Linked DNA regions of Homo sapiens: region 2 is linked to region 1. A link means that fine-mapping ties the variant in region 1 to the expression of a gene that starts in the linked region. Tissue or cell type: cerebellum. Region 1 holds a variant in brackets; the other region holds the start of a gene. All regions are shown on one strand. Distances are between the middles of the regions.

Region 1 (8,000 bases):
TGTGGCCTTGTGATAAAATGTGGGAAATCACAGAAAACACCAGAAACAACAACTGCCAGCCCGGCCTGGCCACAGGTGAGGTCTGTGATTTCCGAGCACGCTCCACCTTGCACTCAACTTGGCCTTTTGATTGCACAAGCCTTTGTTTTCAGTCCTAGTGAATAAAGTTGTGTTTTCTGGAGCGTCTGTCTCATCTGTTGAAAAAAATCCACTTCTAGAGCAGGATGCTGGAGTTTGAGAGACTCAGCAAGGCCCAGAACCCTCAGCAGGTGTGTGGCTACCATTCCTCCATGGCCCATGGCTGCCTCCCTAAGGAGGCACATGGGAACCCTAGGTGGTGTCAACTTCCCTCCACAAATCTCAAAAGCCTTTTTGGACTCACCCTGGGGCAAAAGGCATGAAAAACAGTATTTGACTGGGCGTGGTGGCTCACACCTGTGATCCCAGCACTTTGGGAGGCTGAGGTGGGCAGATCACCTGAGGTCAGGAGTTTGAGACCAGCCTAACACGGAGAAACCCCGTCTCTACTAAAAATACAAAATTAGCCGGGCGTGGTGGTGGGCGCCTGTAATTCCAGCCATTTGGGAGGCTCAGGCAGGAAAATCGCTTGAGGTGGAGGTTGTGCCATCGCACTCCCGCCTGGGAAACGAGCAAAACTCCGTCTCAAAAAAAAAAAAAAAAAATCACGGGCAGAAATGGAGAAGGCAATCCCAAGAGATGAAAAGTCACTGGTAACGAGCTTCCGTTTTCATGTCTGTACCCTTTTCCAAGATTGCCTGTGGATCAGCCAGACCTCTGGGGTGCCAGAATAGGAAAATAAAGACACTTGAGAGAAAACCGAATCAACTCACTACCTTTCTTTATTGCTAAGCACTTCAATAGACACAGCGCCCACCTTACCGCTAGGCCCTCCGGATTGAGGTTTACTTAGGTTCAAAACTTGCAGCCGGCTCGCGACGAAACCTGAAAGTCAGCGCCAAAATACAGACATTAAGTCCCCACTCCTTCGTTTCGGGCAACACCTGTTTCCACTCTCAGCTCCCCGTCAGGAGTGCGCACCCTCAAGCCTCAGTCTTGCTAAATAATCAGACTGCACGTGCAGTTTTCATACGAGGTGTCAGAAGTCAAAGCAATTCATCACAGACTGGGAGAATAAGGGAACCCAAGCCCGGCCCAGTCTTACCTGCAGGTAGCTGAGGGCCTGAGATTCGGGAAGAAACCTTTAAACGCTAAGGGACAAAGTGGTGCGTAGGCCAGGCCTGGACGCCCAGGGACCTGGCCGGCCTGCAGCGTTCGGACGGCCCTCAAAGCCACGCTCGTGGCTCAGTTCGTCCCAAGATCGTAGCACATGGCGAACGTATTAACAAACCTCTTCCCCCTCGGACTCGACCCCGAAAAGACAGGGGCGGGCGAGGCTCAAGCTTTTATAGAAACTGTCCCACCTCTGTCATTGGGCTATCCTGGCGGAAGTGCCCGCCTTCCCCCGCCGCTGGTACGCTCCGCTCCCTGCCGCGTTGTTTCCACCAATCGTACCGTGGCATTTCTTTTGGAGACGGTCTCTCAGACCCAGACCCGAAGCTCCTCCCTTATGCAGAGTCCGTGAAGCCTAACGGTGAGTGACGGATGAACAAAGCCAATCAGACTTCGATCTGCAACATAGAGTGATTCTGAAGCTGCCATTCCCGCCCCGCGACGACGAGGCCGCCGGAAGTCGTAGTTTCGGAAGTGCGGCGCGTGAGGCAGCCGTCCGGGCCCGGAGAGGCGGGGAACTACACGTCCCGGCGGGCGCAGCGGCCTGGCGCTTCCGGCTCGCGCGTCTAGTCCCTTTCCCGGCCGGCGGCCGAGGGGGCATCATGAAGCGGGCTGGCGGCGCTGCCGCTCCCGGGCGGCCGCGGGCGGGTGAGTGTCCCCGCGGCGCGCCCGACCCGGGGCTCGCGCCTCGGGACCGCGCGGTGGGGCGGGATCGGGCGCGTGGAGATCGAGGCGAGGCGAGGCGAGGCGAGGGGTCGGGCCGGGGCGGGGAGGGGGGGGCGGGGCTGAGACGGTCGGGGTCGGGGTCAGGGTCGGGGTCCGCGTCGCTGTCCGTCCGCCAGTCAGTAGTCCGTCCCTCGCTCCGTCCTGTTCTCGCGCAGTTCTTTACTCATTCCTTCTTCCTGCATTCCCCGAGACTCCCGGGTGCCAGGCACTGTTCTGGGCGCCGGGAGACCGCGGAGAACACGGTCCCAGTTCTCCTGTGCTCGGCGTCTGCTGCAGGGTTCCCCAACCTCCGCACCATCGACCACGCGGCCCGGGTCGCTTTTTGCTGCGAGGAGCTGCCCTGTACATTGTAGGATGTGGAACAGCTTGCCTGGCTCCTGGCCGCTAGATACCAGTAAACACCACCCCTTCCTCAATTGCGATAACAAATGTCTCCATGCATTGGCAAATGCCTCCTGCGGAACAACTCCCCCCATCCCCCATCTAGACAGACAGGGTGGTGGGATTGACAATAGGTAGTTAAAATCATGGGGAGCAGCGGTATGTGCTGTGAAAGAAAGAAAGAGGGTGCTGAAAAAGTGAGTACTGGCCGGGGGTAGGGGCGGCGCTACCGTTAGCCAAAGGCCTGTTGGAGAAGCAGCCAGTCCCAGGACATGCAGGAGGAGCATTCCAAGTAGAAAGAGCCAGATGTACATAGGCCTGGGGTGAGAAGGGGCCTGACGCACCCCAGCAAGCACTGGCAAGTGGAGAGGTGAAGTCGATGAGGCCGGACCAGGCTCACAGGGTGCATGGTGGGGTGGGGCGGGGGGGTTATTATGCTGGCAAATGACTTGGGGTTGAGGAAGCGCTGGAGAGGCGGTCCGATCTAGGTCCAGTAAAGAGCTTTCTAACTGTGTGTGGACCACAGACTTCAGAGTTCACTGGGGAAGCAGGAGAGAGGGAGGCTAGGCCATCGTCTCCTAGTCCCCACTGGGGTCCTGCTGTCAAGATACGGTTGTCTTGAGCCAGGCCAGAGTGGTCAGCTGGGGTTGAGTCTGGAGTCCAGGGGCAGGGGCCTGCTGGAGCCCACCCTGCTCTTGGGGGTGAGGGGCTGCTGGCTTGCTCAGGAATTTCATGCCGCCCAGCCTGTCTGCCCACCTTTCTCACTACCCCTCAGACCCCTTCCTGGGCACACACAGGCCCCCTAGCCCTCGCCAAGTGAGGAGCCTCCCTCTTCCTCATTCCTTCTCTTTGGGCCTCTCCCTTCCTAGACCCCTTCCCTGTGCCTCTCTGTTGCGAATATCCTGACTTCACTGTTCTGGGCATTCATAGTTCTCTGTGGAAGCCTCGGGCCCCGTGTCCTGAGGGGGAGCAGTGGTATGGGCAGCCTGGCCTAAGGAGGGGAGGGGCTGGGAGTCAGCACCCCAACCTGACGCCCCAACCTGAGGGTCTCTGGTGAAGTGACTTCCACCGTGGCCCACTGGGGCCAAGTGTTACGATATTTCTGGAAGTGAATGGAAAAGTTCAGGGTCTTTGGCACCCACCGAAAAGTGCCTTTGGCAGATTGAGTGGCGATTGGTGGGGCTCCTGCCCCTCTGTCTGCCTGTGTCCCCCACAAGGCTCCTAGCTCCTCCCGGGTCAGATTCGTGTTCAGCCGTCACACATCCCCACCCTCCCGCATGGGGCCTGGCACCCCGTGGTTGGTGTGACTCTCGGCCAGCTGGTTGGACAAGGAATGAGCAGTTTGGGGAAAGGAGGAAGATGCAGTTGAAGAGCCTCCTGGCCAGGAGGCCTGGGCAGCCTGGCTCTGGGATGCAGCCACTCCCCGGCTTGGCATGGGACTGGCTCAGGCGCTGCCGGGGCTCCTGGATGTGTGGCAGCCGTGGACGAAGCAGAAGGAATGTGACTCTGGTCACAGCGGCACAGCCTGCTGGCTGTGTCCCTGGGCCGGCCTCTCCGCCTTCCTCAGCCTCCATGGTCCACTCAGCAGAGGAGCTGCTGTCTGGGGTGCCTTCACTCTTGACGGATCCATCTTCTCTCGGCTCCTTCCAGACAGGGTTCTGGCTCTATTCCGTTTTTCGAGAAGCCCGAGGCCAGGAGGGCAGGTACACAGCTGTGAAGTGGTAGAAGTGGACTTTGAACCCAGCTCTGTCTGAGCCCAGTGCCTGTGGCCTTGACCACGGTGTCACAGCATCTCCTGGATGGACACCCTGCGGGGTCAGGGAGGGCATGTGGGGAGGGCCGAGAGCTGTTGGCTGCGTGTGTCTCAGTCCGGCCTTCTCAGTGGGTGGGCACCGAGGACTTCACCAGGCCCTCTGTGTGGATCATGCGGGGGGAACCTGTGGAGAGGGACCCACCAACCCCTTAGTCTTTGACAGATCCGCTGCTGTCCCCAGCCTTGCTCCCTGGAGGAGGAGGGTGCAGCCAGGTGGGGCAGGTGAAAGGGGAAAGCGGGCACTGGAGGCTGGGGCTGGTCACGTGTAGACCCGGACACCCTCACCCGGCTGGAGGAAGCCGGCTGCCTGGAAACTCGGGGTGGAGGTGACCCAACCCCAGAAGCACCCAGGTGGGAAGTAGGGGGCAGCGACGCAGAGGGCCAGGACTGAGGGCCGTGGGACGGTGTGGGAAAGGAGGTGGCAGTGCGGTGGCACGCTGGCATGAGGGCGCTGGGTGACTGAGGGGGTCAGTGGTCTCTGCCCTCACATTCCTGTTGCCTCTTCGGGCCCATGTATGGCCAGTGTTTATGTCAGCTCCCTGCTGCTGCAGGGCAGAAGGAAGGAGGGAGCCCGGGAGACCGAGCCACACAGGAAGCAAATGAGAACACAGCGTGGGACTGGGAAGCGTGGGCTCGGCGGGGGGGGGGGGGACACTGCCACCCTTGGCTCTTGGGCAAAGCTCACGACCTGTTTCTGAGAGTCTGAGGCCCACTTGACTTGGGTGAGAGCCAGGAACGCACTCCCCAGCCCAGAGCT[G/A]TGAAGCTGGGGTCTCTTCCTGTGCCCCAGGATACTCTCCCCACTCTGGATCCCAGCAGCCTCATCCTCCAGGAAGCCCTCTGGACTTCCCCTCGACTGGGCCAGGTCCCCACACAATAGACAGCCATGAGATACAGGGGAAAAAAGGACTGAGAGATGTTGCCAGCCCCCAAGGGGTCGGAGGGGCAGCAAAAGGCATCCTTACTGTGAAGTTGGGGTAAAGCCTTGGCCGAGCTGTGGGGACCCCCTCCCTGGAGCAGAGGGAGATACGGACGCTGGAGAGGCTTGGCCAGGGCAAGACAGGCCTGGAGGCTGAGTGGATGCAGTAGGAGCAGAGCTGGGGGAGGAGTTCAGAGGCCTCTGCAGAGCTGGGGCTGTGGGTGTTGGGGGCAGGGACAGGCAAGGGGGTTCGCCGTGCTAGGAGGGAAGCGGGGCCAAGCCGGCCTCAGACCAGGGCCTGCTGGGGTTCTGAGGGGATCCTAAGGACCAAGGCTGGCAGAGGCCGGGGCACCCCAGGAGCCTTCGACGTCACACCCTGCCTATTTGGGATGGAAAAAACGTTCTAAGGGACGTCAGGGAACAGCGGCGGAAGTGCGTGTGGCTTTGCTATGGCAACCAGGCCTGTTTCTATAGAATTTAGCGGCCTGGGCTTGGGCCAGGGGGCTGAGGCAGGGGCTGGGCTGGGGCGGGCAGTCTGTGGGTGCCCTGGGCAGGCTCTGTGATGCCAGGGGCCACGCTCGGAGCTCTGGCCGCAGTCCAGCCAGCCGGCCACACACAGCCCTGTGGCAGGCGGGGCGGAGGCTTCTGGAGCCGTCCCAGGCTCCTCCCAGGGCAGTTGCAGGCCTCACAGGCACACCCACCCATGGCTTGCGCCCCACACATGTTCAGGGGACCCCCACACCCCACCTGCTCCGGGTTGCTGGAGGAGCTGCTTTAAGGCCGGGCCTGGCCCGAGCAGGGAGCTGCATCTGGAAGCCCCCATCTCCCCCACTCAGCAGGGCCCCCCAGGCTGCTGCCAAGTGGGCGGGGACCCCTGACCCAGACCCCCTCCAGGTGTGTCTCCAGGGAAAGGGGTGGGTGTCCGCATCCCACATGCCCCCAGGGCGATGCCCCAGCAGAGCCCTCTAAGCCCAGCTTGTGGGAGCTAGGGAGGGGCTCCTGAGGGATTTGCCGAAGAGGGGCTGGGGTGGAGGCAGCGAGGCGCTGAGGAAGACTTCCACTTCCTTATTGCACAGTGGGTGCCCCCAGGGCCCCGGAATCCCTCCTACGTGAATGTGGGGTGGACAAAGACCCTGGGCCTGAATCCCAGATTCAGGCGAGGTCAGGGAGGGGCTGCCCTGCGTTGGCCCCAGCTGGAGGGGACGGTGGGGGGCCAATCCTGCCCTTCCCCTCTGCACGGTGCTGACCCACGCACCTCGCCCCTGAAGGTCAGCACTGGCCTTCCCCAGGGTGGATGCTGCGCTTCCTCAATGACTTTTCTCTTTCAAAGATCGAATACTCCTGGAGCATCCAGCATGGGCAGTGTGGACGGGCAGGTGGTGTGGACGGGCAGGTGGTGTGGACAGGCAGGCGGTGTGGATGGGCGGGCGGTGTGGACGGGCGGGAGGTGTGGACCGGCGGGCGGTGTGGGTGGGCGGGAGGTGCTCGGGCAGGCGGTGTGGATGGGCGGGCGGTGTGGGTGGGCGGGCGGTGCTCGGGCAGGCGTGGTGGGGACATGGAAGGGAGGGGTAGGGGGGCTGATGGGGAAAGCCCTTTCTCAGCCACTAGCTGCCCCCATGGCTTTTCCCGGTTTGGGAAGAGTCTCTCATTCTATGGAACACACCCCCACTTCCCCAGCACTGGGAACTGGAGGGCAGAGAGGCCAGAGAATTGAAGGGGAATTCTCACTCCGGTTGACAACTTCCTGCCCGGCCACCCCCCAGCCTCGATGACTGTGGGGTGGGGAAAGAGGCACTCTCCCTCTGGGGGGCCAGGGCATGCCCCCAGAAAAGCCTCCCAGCCATCAGGGGATGCTGAGCTATTGTGCTTTCCAGTTGTGGCCCAAGGGGTCCTCTCCCTACTGGGGAAACTTACTGCAAAACCCAGTCCCTGGGGACTGGGCTGAGGGGAGGCCTCGGGCATCTTGCTCAATTCCGAGGTGCGGGGATGGATCCTGCCTTAGGGCGGGACACAAACGTTCCCTGGCCTCCAGCCCCAGGGTCCCGCCCGCCTCCATGTCCCTGGCTGGGGCTGAACACTGAACCCGAGTGAACTGGGAAGCAGCCTCCTGTGCAGAGTATCCCCCTCCTTCCCTCCCTCCTTCCGTCCCCCTCCCTCCCTCCGTCCCCCTGCTTCCCTCTGCCCCCTCCCTCCCTCCGTCCCCTCCCTCCTTCCGTCCCCCTCAGCTGGCGCTCGATGGGGTCTTGCGCACACCCCACAGATCCTGTGGTGTTGTCCCCGTGGCCCGGCTGCTGTTGGCCAGCTGGGACTTTCTGGCTGATTTGCACATTGCCCTGCGTGCCTTTCTGTTCACCTCACTTCAGAGTGAGGGGGAAGCCAGACAGTTGCTCTCCCAGACTGTGAGCAACAGGCACTGAGGCCAGCCCGACCCATCCCAGGGGAGTGCCTGCTGGGGTCCTGGCCACCTGGGCCCCCGGGCAGGCATCACTGGCAGGGCTTGCAGCTGGCCCTGGGGCCCCGGAAGCTTGCAGTACAGGGAGCTGATGGGTTTGTAAAATGCAGGTCAGTGTCTCCTAGTGGCTGCCCGGTGATCCCCTCCCTGCTCCCAGAGGGCAGGAGCCAACCTGGGGCTCCCAAAAGGGCTGAACCTCCTGTGCCGAGTCATGGCGCCCTGCACTTCAGGCTATCAGGGCCTTACCCCAGCTGGGACATCCTCACCCCAAGCACAATGGCAAAAGGCAAGCCCTGGCCAGCTCTCCCCGACCTTCCTGCCGGGAGCTGCTGGAGACGGGATAGACATGTGCCAGGGCAGAGCAGCCTTGTAGACACACCACGACCACACCTCTGTCCCAGGGCTGACTCCTCTGAGCCTGGCTGCAGGTGTGTGGCACTGCCCACACTCAGGAGCCCCTG
Region 2 (8,000 bases), 48 kb after region 1:
TCATGGCGGAAGGCGAAGCGGAAGCAAGGCACCTTCTCCGCAAGGCGGCAGGAAGGAGAAGTGGAGCAAAGGAGGAGGAACCCCTTATAAAACCATCAGATCTCTTGAGATCTCACTCACTATCATGAGAACGGCATGGGGGAACCTGCCCTCATGATTCAGTTACCTCCACCTGGTCTCTCCTTTGACACATGGGGATTATGGGGATTACAATTCAAGACGAGATTTGGGTGGGGACACAAAGCCTAATGGTATCACATGGAGAGGAGATGGAAGCCACAGGATGGGCCAGGGCCAGGGCCAGGCCCAGGAGTCTGGAGAGGGACAGGGACCCCTGAGGGCTTCTAATGGGGTGATCAAGTCATTCCTAGGTTTTGCTGGGGGTTTTTGTTTTGTTTTGAGAAAAGGTCTTGCTCTGTCACCCAGCCTGGAGTGCAGTGGCTCAACCACAGCTTACTGCAGCCTCGAGTTCCTGGCCTCGAGTGATCCTTCCACCTCAGCCTCCCAAAGCTGGGACCACAGGCACGCACCACCATTCCTGACTAATTTTTAAATTTTTTGTAGAGATGGGGTATCACTATATTGTTCAGGATGGTCTTGAACTTCTGGGCTCGAGTGATCCTCCTGCCTCAGCCTTCGAAAGTGCTGGGATTACAGGCATGAATCACTGTGCTGGGCTCAGACTGAGGTTTTTAAAAGGCCACTCTGGCCGGGCGCGATGGCTCACGCCTGTAAACCTAGCACTTTGAGAAGCTGAGGTGGGTGGGTCACTTGAGGTTAGGAATTCAAGACCAGCCTGACCAACATGGAGAAACCCTGTCTCTACTAAAAATACAAAATTAGCTGGGATGGTGGTGCATGCCTGTAATCCCAGCTACTCAGGAGACTGAGGAACCCAGGAGGTGGAGGTTGCAGCGAGTCGAGATCGCGCCATTGCACTCCAGCCTGGGCAACAAGAGTGAAAATCCGTCTCAAAAATAAATAAATAAATAAATAAATAAATAAATAAATAAATAAAAGGCCATTCTGCACTGTGGTGGACAGTTTGGAAGGGGGCCAGAGTGGCTGGGGCAAGGAAGGAGGCTTTTATGGGGGATGGGGGTGGTGAGCTAGAACCAGGGCAGTGGAAAGGACAGGAAGGTATATCACAGGTAAAATCGGTGGCTGAAGGGAAGGGAAGGGTGAGGGAGGGGAGGTGTCGGATCTTGCCCAGCTGTAATACAAGGTGGGCACTGCCCACAGAAGGGGAGCTACTCAGGGATGGGTTGTCTTGGCCCTGGAATATGGTGGACCCTGCGGGGCATTCAAGGGACAGTGTCTTAACAGGGAGCTGAGGCCATCAGAGCTGGAGACAGGGTGGAAGGGGCCCAGGACAGGGACAGCATTGGAAGCTCCAGAGCTAGCAGTCATCAGCCCCCTGGTATCTCGTGGGGTGCACAGAGTGAATGCTGAAGGGCCTGAGTCCTTGCGGGCAGGCAGGGAAAGAGACTAAATGTCGGGGACAGGAGCTAGGAGAAGGCAGCCTTTCAGGCATGGTGCCGTCAACCATGGCTCAGATGCGTCAAGAAGTGGGAGGGGGCCGGGCGCAGTGGCTCACGCCTGTAATCCCAGCACTTTGGGAGGCTGAGGGGGGCGGATCACGAGGTCACGAGATCAAGACCATCCACCATCCTGGCCAACATGGTGAAAAGTCTGTCTCTACTAAAAATAGAAAAATTAACTGGGTGTGGTGGCATGCACCTGTAATCCCAGCTACCCGGGAGGCTGAGGCAGGAGAATAGCTTGAACCCGGGAGGTGGAGATTGTGGAGAGCCGAGATCGCACCACTGCACTCCAGCCTGGCAACAAAGCGAGACTCCGTCTCAATAAAAAAAAAAAAAAAAAGAAAGAAGAAGTGGGAAGAGGCCGGGCGCAGTGGCTCACGCCTGTAATCCCAGCACTTTGGGAGGCTGAGGTAGGCGGATCACTTGAGGTCAGGAGTTTGAGACCAGCCTTGCGAACATGGTGAAATCCCGTCTCCACTAAAAATACAAAAATCAGCCAGGTGTGGTGGTGCGTGCCTGTAATCCCAGCTACTCGGGAGGCTGAGGCAGGAAAATCGCTTGAACCTGGGAGGCAGAGGTTTTGCAGTGAGTCGAGATTGCACCACTGCACTCCAGCCTGGGCGAGAAAGCGAGACTCTGTCTCGAGAGAAAAAAAAAAAAAAGGTGGGAAGAAGGAAAAGTATCCACTGGATTTAGCAAAGTGAGATTGTCAGTGACCTTGAGGAATTTCCACTGGAGAGCTAGAGAGCTGGGGGTAAAAGGCAGATGACTGGGGTTGCGGAATGAGTGGGAGGTGAGGACGTGGAACTAGAAAAATGGTGAGGACCGCTCTTTGAAGAAGATAATTTGGGATTGTTTTATGGTGTTTTTTTAAAGGCTAACCGGCAGGAAGGAGAGGAGGTGAAGGTATAGGAAGGAAGGCTCCATGGGAACTATGGCCTGGTCAAGGGACAAGATGCACCCCCTCTGCGGCCAGAGGAAGGGGTGCAGCCAGGTCTGTAAGAGCAGCAGGAAAAAACCATGCGACAGCCTGTCTCAAGGGTGAGGGCACCGGCGTGGAGCTCACAGAGCTGGAATGAGGGCCTGTGGTTTTGAGGGGGACCCTGGGCTCAGTGGGATGTCCTGAGGGTCAGGCTGGGGCTGGGGTGCCAGATCTAGCAAGTAAAACTACAGGATACCCAATAAAATTTTTTTAGCATAAGTATTTCCCATGCAATGTCCTGGATATACTTACACTAAAAAAAAAATTATTCGTTACTTGTCTGAATTCAAGTCCTGTAATTTTCAGCCAATCCTAGCCCAGCGTGGCGCAGTAGTGGGTCAGGGAGGGCACCGGAACAGCGCGACCCGACAGCCCGGGAAACGGACAGCCGTGTCAGAAGGGCAGGTGCCAGTGGGCAGGAGGCCGGAGAGAAAGCCGCAGCTTCCTTCCACCTCGCGCCGGGCCCGCGGCCGCGCACGGGGACCGCTCCGAGTTCCTCCCGGCGGGAACCCCCCGCCCCAGAACTTTGGTCTCGTCCCACCCACCCCCGCCCGCGCCATGGTCTCGCCCTAGGGAGCCATCGATAACTCTACGCTCGGCCTCGATCGACTCGCTCCGGCTCCCCTCGCCGTCCTGGACACGGCGGAGTGCGGAGCCGCCCGTAAGGTACGGAGGCCGCGAGCCAGGGGCCGGGAACCGGCTGCTGGGTGGCTGGGAGAGCACGGCCAGGGGAAGCCGGCCAGCAGGACGGAGCAAGGGCGGTCACCGGAGGAAAGGGGAGCTCGGGGGTCCAGCCAGACTGCGCCCTTTCCCATCAGGGCCTGCCGCTGGCCTGCTACGCATGCGCAGCCGCAGCGCTCGGCTTTCCCCGGCCCATCCGCCGCCTTGCGCACGCGCAGCCCGCCCCTGCGGCAGAGTGGCGCCCGCGCGTGACTCCCCCCTGCCGGCTGCGGAGGTGGGGGGGGGACGGCGCCCCCGCCGTGTGCGTGGGGCGGGGATGGAGCACGCGCCCTGGAGCCCCGGAGCCAGGTATCACGCGTGTGACGCGTGTCCCTGAACCTACCTGCGCTTCTTGTCCCAACTCTAAAATGGGAATGATAAGCGCCATTCGGCAGCGCCTTGTGGGTCTATAATCTACTTAGCACAGAGAGTGTCTTCTAAGTACTTCACATCCTTCTCTGCAGATGCTCTGACCTTTGACCCCTGCCGTTCAGCTCTAGGGCCCGTGCAGGCCACACCATGAACACCTCCCCAGGCACGGTGGGCAGTGACCCGGTCATCCTGGCCACTGCAGGCTACGACCACACCGTGCGCTTCTGGCAGGCCCACAGCGGCATCTGCACCCGGACGGTGCAGCACCAGGACTCCGTATCCTCCACCCGGGGCGGGCAGGGCGGCGCTGGGGGGATGCCTCGTGTGGGGACCACAGCCTGTGTGAAGGCCAGATGGTGGAGGCCTGGGGGGCCCTGGCCTCAGGGCTACCTTCCCGTCATCCTCCTTAACAGTCCCAGCAGGTGAATGCCTTGGAGGTCACACCGGACCGCAGCATGATTGCTGCTGCAGGTATCTGTGATCCTTGATCTCTAAACTCCTGAGCTCTGGTGGGTCGACCTCAGCACAGCCAAGCTTCAGTTCAGCCTGTGTCCCTAGGTTACCAGCACATCCGCATGTATGATCTCAACTCCAATAACCCTAACCCCATCATCAGCTACGACGGCGTCAACAAGAACATCGCGTCTGTGGGCTTCCACGAAGACGGCCGCTGGATGTACACGGGCGGCGAGGACTGCACAGCCAGGATCTGGGACCTCAGGTGCGGTGGGGAGGGGGCGTGCTGCCCGGGGCTGGGGTGGGCTGCTCTGGGAGACCGTTTTAGGTTGGGTTCTCTTCAAGCAGAGGCTGAGACAGGGAGCTTCCTGTGGGCGACTTACTGAGAGAAGTGAGGACAGGAGGAGAGTGAATTGCATCAGAGCGCGAGTCCTGCCTTGAGCCCGGAGCCAGCTTGTTATTCCCCTTCCACCAGCCACTGGCTTAGGCTCCCTGCTGGAGCAGAGGGCCCTGCGTCCCAAGTATTTCCCAAGAGGCAGGTCCTTCAGCAGAGGGAGGGGAGGAATGGCCAGGCCGAGGCCATCTGGGTAGGGCACCAACAAGCCCAGATGGACAGCATGTGCCCCGGCCCGGCCCGCAGGTCCCGGAACCTGCAGTGCCAGCGGATCTTCCAGGTGAACGCACCCATTAACTGCGTGTGCCTGCACCCCAACCAGGTGAGGGGTGCTCATGGGGCCAGGCACCCTGGGACTTTGGAGGGCTGGGCTTGGGCCCTGCCTCACCACCCCTGCACCCCAGGCAGAGCTCATCGTGGGTGACCAGAGCGGGGCTATCCACATCTGGGACTTGAAAACAGACCACAACGAGCAGCTGATCCCTGAGCCCGAGGTCTCCATCACGTCCGCCCACATCGATCCCGACGCCAGCTACATGGCAGCTGTCAATAGCACCGTGAGTCCTGGTGGCAGGTGCTGGGTGCGGGCAGCTTGGCACTCAGCCCTCAGCCTCTGCAGGTGGGCTTATTCCTGGATGTCCCTTAGCGGCCCCCTCCTGCTTTCCCCATCCCGGGCACTAACACCCACCTTGCCAGCAAAGCCAGAAGCCTTAGTGTCGCTCCCGATGGCTTAGTCCTGTCTGCAGGTCGGTCACTCCGCTTTCTGGAGTCTCTCCCAAGTCGATCCACTTCCCTCTTTTCACTCTGTTGCCTCCTGGTCCCAGTCACCCTTGTTTCTGGTGACGGCTGACACACTCTCTGAGGCTTCCTTTCCCCCTCCCTGACCTCCCCTGGCCCCTGACACGTTCTCTCTTGGATGCTTCTAGTGGTGCCTGGTCAGTATCAGCCAGGTGGCGTCATTCCCCTGAGGAGACCCGGGGCTGCTGGCCTCGCCCGTAGGCTGCTGTGGCGTGGCCCCTGCTCTTCTCTCCAGCCTCATTTTTTTTCATTAACTTCATTTAATCCCAGTGCATCACTTGTACCTCTTGCCCCCGGATTTCCCTTCTGCTGGCCTTTGTCATGCTGTCTCTCTAGCTGGTGCCCTTCTCCTGTCTACTTCCGTTGGCCATCGGCATCCTCCAGGAAGGAGAATTTGAGTCCTTGGCCAGGCGTGGCCTCCTGTTCTTGGCTTGCCAGGTGTGGCCCTTGCTTGGGGCCAGGCTTCCCAGGTGCCTTCTGCAGGCAGGACCAGAGGGGCCTGCCTGCCCCTCACCCGGGGTCCCCATGCACAGTTGGCCCCCAGTGTTGGCCCCCAGGGCATCCTTCCCTGTGTCTCAGACCTGAGGCCTTGGGCCCTCCGTGACGGTCCTCCTGACCTCTAGGGAAACTGCTATGTCTGGAATCTGACGGGGGGCATTGGTGACGAGGTGACCCAGCTCATCCCCAAGACTAAGATCCCTGCCCACACGCGCTACGCCCTGCAGTGTCGCTTCAGCCCCGACTCCACGTGCGTGCAGGGCCTGCTGGCCCGGGAGGGGACCTGCCTGGGCTGGGGGCTGGAGAGGGGAGGGGCTGCTGGATGGAGTGGCTGCTGCTGGACACGCCCCATGCCCACCCACTAGGCTCCTCGCCACCTGCTCGGCTGATCAGACGTGCAAGATCTGGAGGACGTCCAACTTCTCCCTGATGACGGAGCTGAGCATCAAGAGCGGCAACCCCGGGGAGTCCTCCCGCGGCTGGATGTGGGGCTGCGCCTTCTCGGGGGACTCCCAGTACATCGTCACTGGTGAGCCCCGCCCTGGCCTCCCCCATCCCTGGCCCCCGGCGCTGGCCTCCAGAGCCAGCCCACCTCGGCTGCAGCTTCCCCTCTGCTGGGGCCGCCTGCTTGGCCTGCACCTGCGCTCTTAGCCCTGCACAATCTCCCCCTCCAGCTTCCTCGGACAACCTGGCCCGGCTCTGGTGTGTGGAGACTGGAGAGATCAAGAGAGAGTATGGCGGCCACCAGAAGGCTGTTGTCTGCCTGGCCTTCAATGACAGTGTGCTGGGCTAGCCTGTGACCCCTCGGGACTGCCTGGTGCAGGTGGTGGCAGCTGGAGGGACCCATGCAGCACCCAGGTCAGAGCAGACCCTCCCCTGCCGGCCTGCGCCAGCTGGACCTGATGGCCCCCTGTGGCGCCTTGACCTGCTGGGCCAGGCTGCCCTGGGACTCTCAGCCCCCAGTTGCTTATCCAGATGTGACAGAGCTCGACCCAAGCCAGGCTGCACACTCCTGGACTGGGCTAGCCTGCACTGCCTGGGAAAGTCGGCCGAGGGCCCAAAGCTGCTGAGGGGTCTGAGGCTGGTGCCCACCCCCAAGCTAGTGTGTTCTCTGCCCCTCCCTGCCCGCGTTTCAGGGCCTCGGTCCATAGAGAACACCACCACCATGGCCAGGTGGAAGGGTTTATTAGTCCCTGCCAGCAGCTGTCCTCCCTGGTGCAGGTGGCCTGGCCAGCCCACTGGATTGGGGACGGGCCAGGCTGGGCCAGGTCGGGGGCTCAGTCTGGGAGGTAATAAAAGCAGACCGACACGCAGATGTTGCTCGGGAAGCAGATGTCGATGCAGAGATAAATCAGCCGCTGTCTCCGGGGCCCTGTGGCGAGGGTGCCGTGAATCTCCAAGGGCTCCGCCCCCAGCTCCTCAAACCATCCCGAGGGCCTGGCCTTCCCCCACAGCGGTCCTGACTCACCCTCTGCTCGCCGGGCCCAGTAGATGGGGGTCCTCATGCACAGGCGCTGCACCAAAGCCCCCGCCTGGGCGGGGTCCACTTCGAGGCTCCCCTGCACTGCCAGCAGCTCCTGGGTGTGGTGGGTGTCCTGGCTGGGGACCCAAGCCTCTTGGACCTGTTGAGAAGGCTCTGGTGGGCGGTGGGACAGGGCTGCTCCCTGCTCCTGGCTTGGCAGGGCCGGGTACCCTCCAACCCCCAGTGATGTCCCCACCCTCAGCTCTTGTCAGCAGCCTGGGCTTAGGGCGGAGAGAGCTTCCTGTTCCCTGAAACCACAGCTCCAGCCTGTCCCGTACTGGGCTGCACACAGGACCCTTTGTCTAGCCCCTGGCCCGGGCCTGCGCCCAGCAGGACGGCTCACCTTGGAGGTATCCACCAGCAGCCGCAGGGTCTCCCGATCACTGTCCTCCATCAGGCGGAGGAAGCAGACCTGGTGCTCCTCAGGGCGGTAACAGATGCAGCCCTGGGGAGGCAGGGGGGTGAGGCGGGGCCCCCCAGACCGACACCTGCCAGGGTGACCCCTCCCTGCCCACTCACGCTCTGCCCGTCGAACAGCACCGCCCAGCTGTGGTTGCTCTGAGGTGGGGTCACTGTGATGGTCGCCGCGTTCCGGGCCACGTCCACCAGGATGGTTTGGTTGGGCCGGGGCATGTGGGGGCTCGGGAGGGTCATTCGCAGCGTCTGCAGCCTTGGCTGGCAGTGGGAGTTGGAGTTCAGCCGGGCAGCTGTGCA

What was found. PIP is the estimated chance that this variant, and not a neighbour inherited with it, causes the effect.
Region 2: MLST8 starts here. The variant in region 1 is fine-mapped to the expression of MLST8 in cerebellum (GTEx, PIP above 0.99).

The regions. Positions count from the first base shown.
Region 1 is chr16:2,153,960-2,161,959 of GRCh38, forward strand. It overlaps RAB26 (RAB26, member RAS oncogene family), which reads left to right. Exons shown (of 9, transcript NM_014353.5): 9 at 1-206. It overlaps TRAF7 (TNF receptor associated factor 7), which reads left to right and starts at 1,823. Exons shown (of 21, transcript NM_032271.3): 1 at 1,823-1,899. It overlaps SNHG19 (small nucleolar RNA host gene 19), which reads right to left and starts at 1,399. Exons shown (of 2, transcript NR_132114.1): 1 at 1,184-1,399; 2 at 823-963. SNORD60 (small nucleolar RNA, C/D box 60) reads right to left here and starts at 1,146; the gene lies at 1,064-1,146. RefSeq lists enhancers at 1,188-1,387, 2,258-2,357, 2,368-2,507, 2,431-3,012, 3,013-3,596 and 3 more and a silencer at 1,868-1,957. The variant G/A (reference allele first, on the strand shown) is at 4,929.
Region 2 is chr16:2,202,321-2,210,320 of GRCh38, forward strand. MLST8 (MTOR associated protein MLST8) reads left to right here and starts at 3,134. Exons shown (of 9, transcript NM_022372.6): 1 at 3,134-3,192; 2 at 3,711-3,894; 3 at 4,038-4,089; 4 at 4,177-4,339; 5 at 4,715-4,790; 6 at 4,873-5,025; 7 at 5,890-6,014; 8 at 6,130-6,293; 9 at 6,439-7,133. The coding sequence starts at 3,766. The coding sequence ends at 6,557. It overlaps BRICD5 (BRICHOS domain containing 5), which reads right to left. Exons shown (of 6, transcript NM_182563.4): 3 at 7,806-7,961; 4 at 7,630-7,731; 5 at 7,233-7,386; 6 at 6,933-7,136. The coding sequence ends at 7,042. RefSeq lists enhancers at 2,109-2,949, 3,789-4,628, 4,629-5,467 and silencers at 3,042-3,691, 7,798-7,988.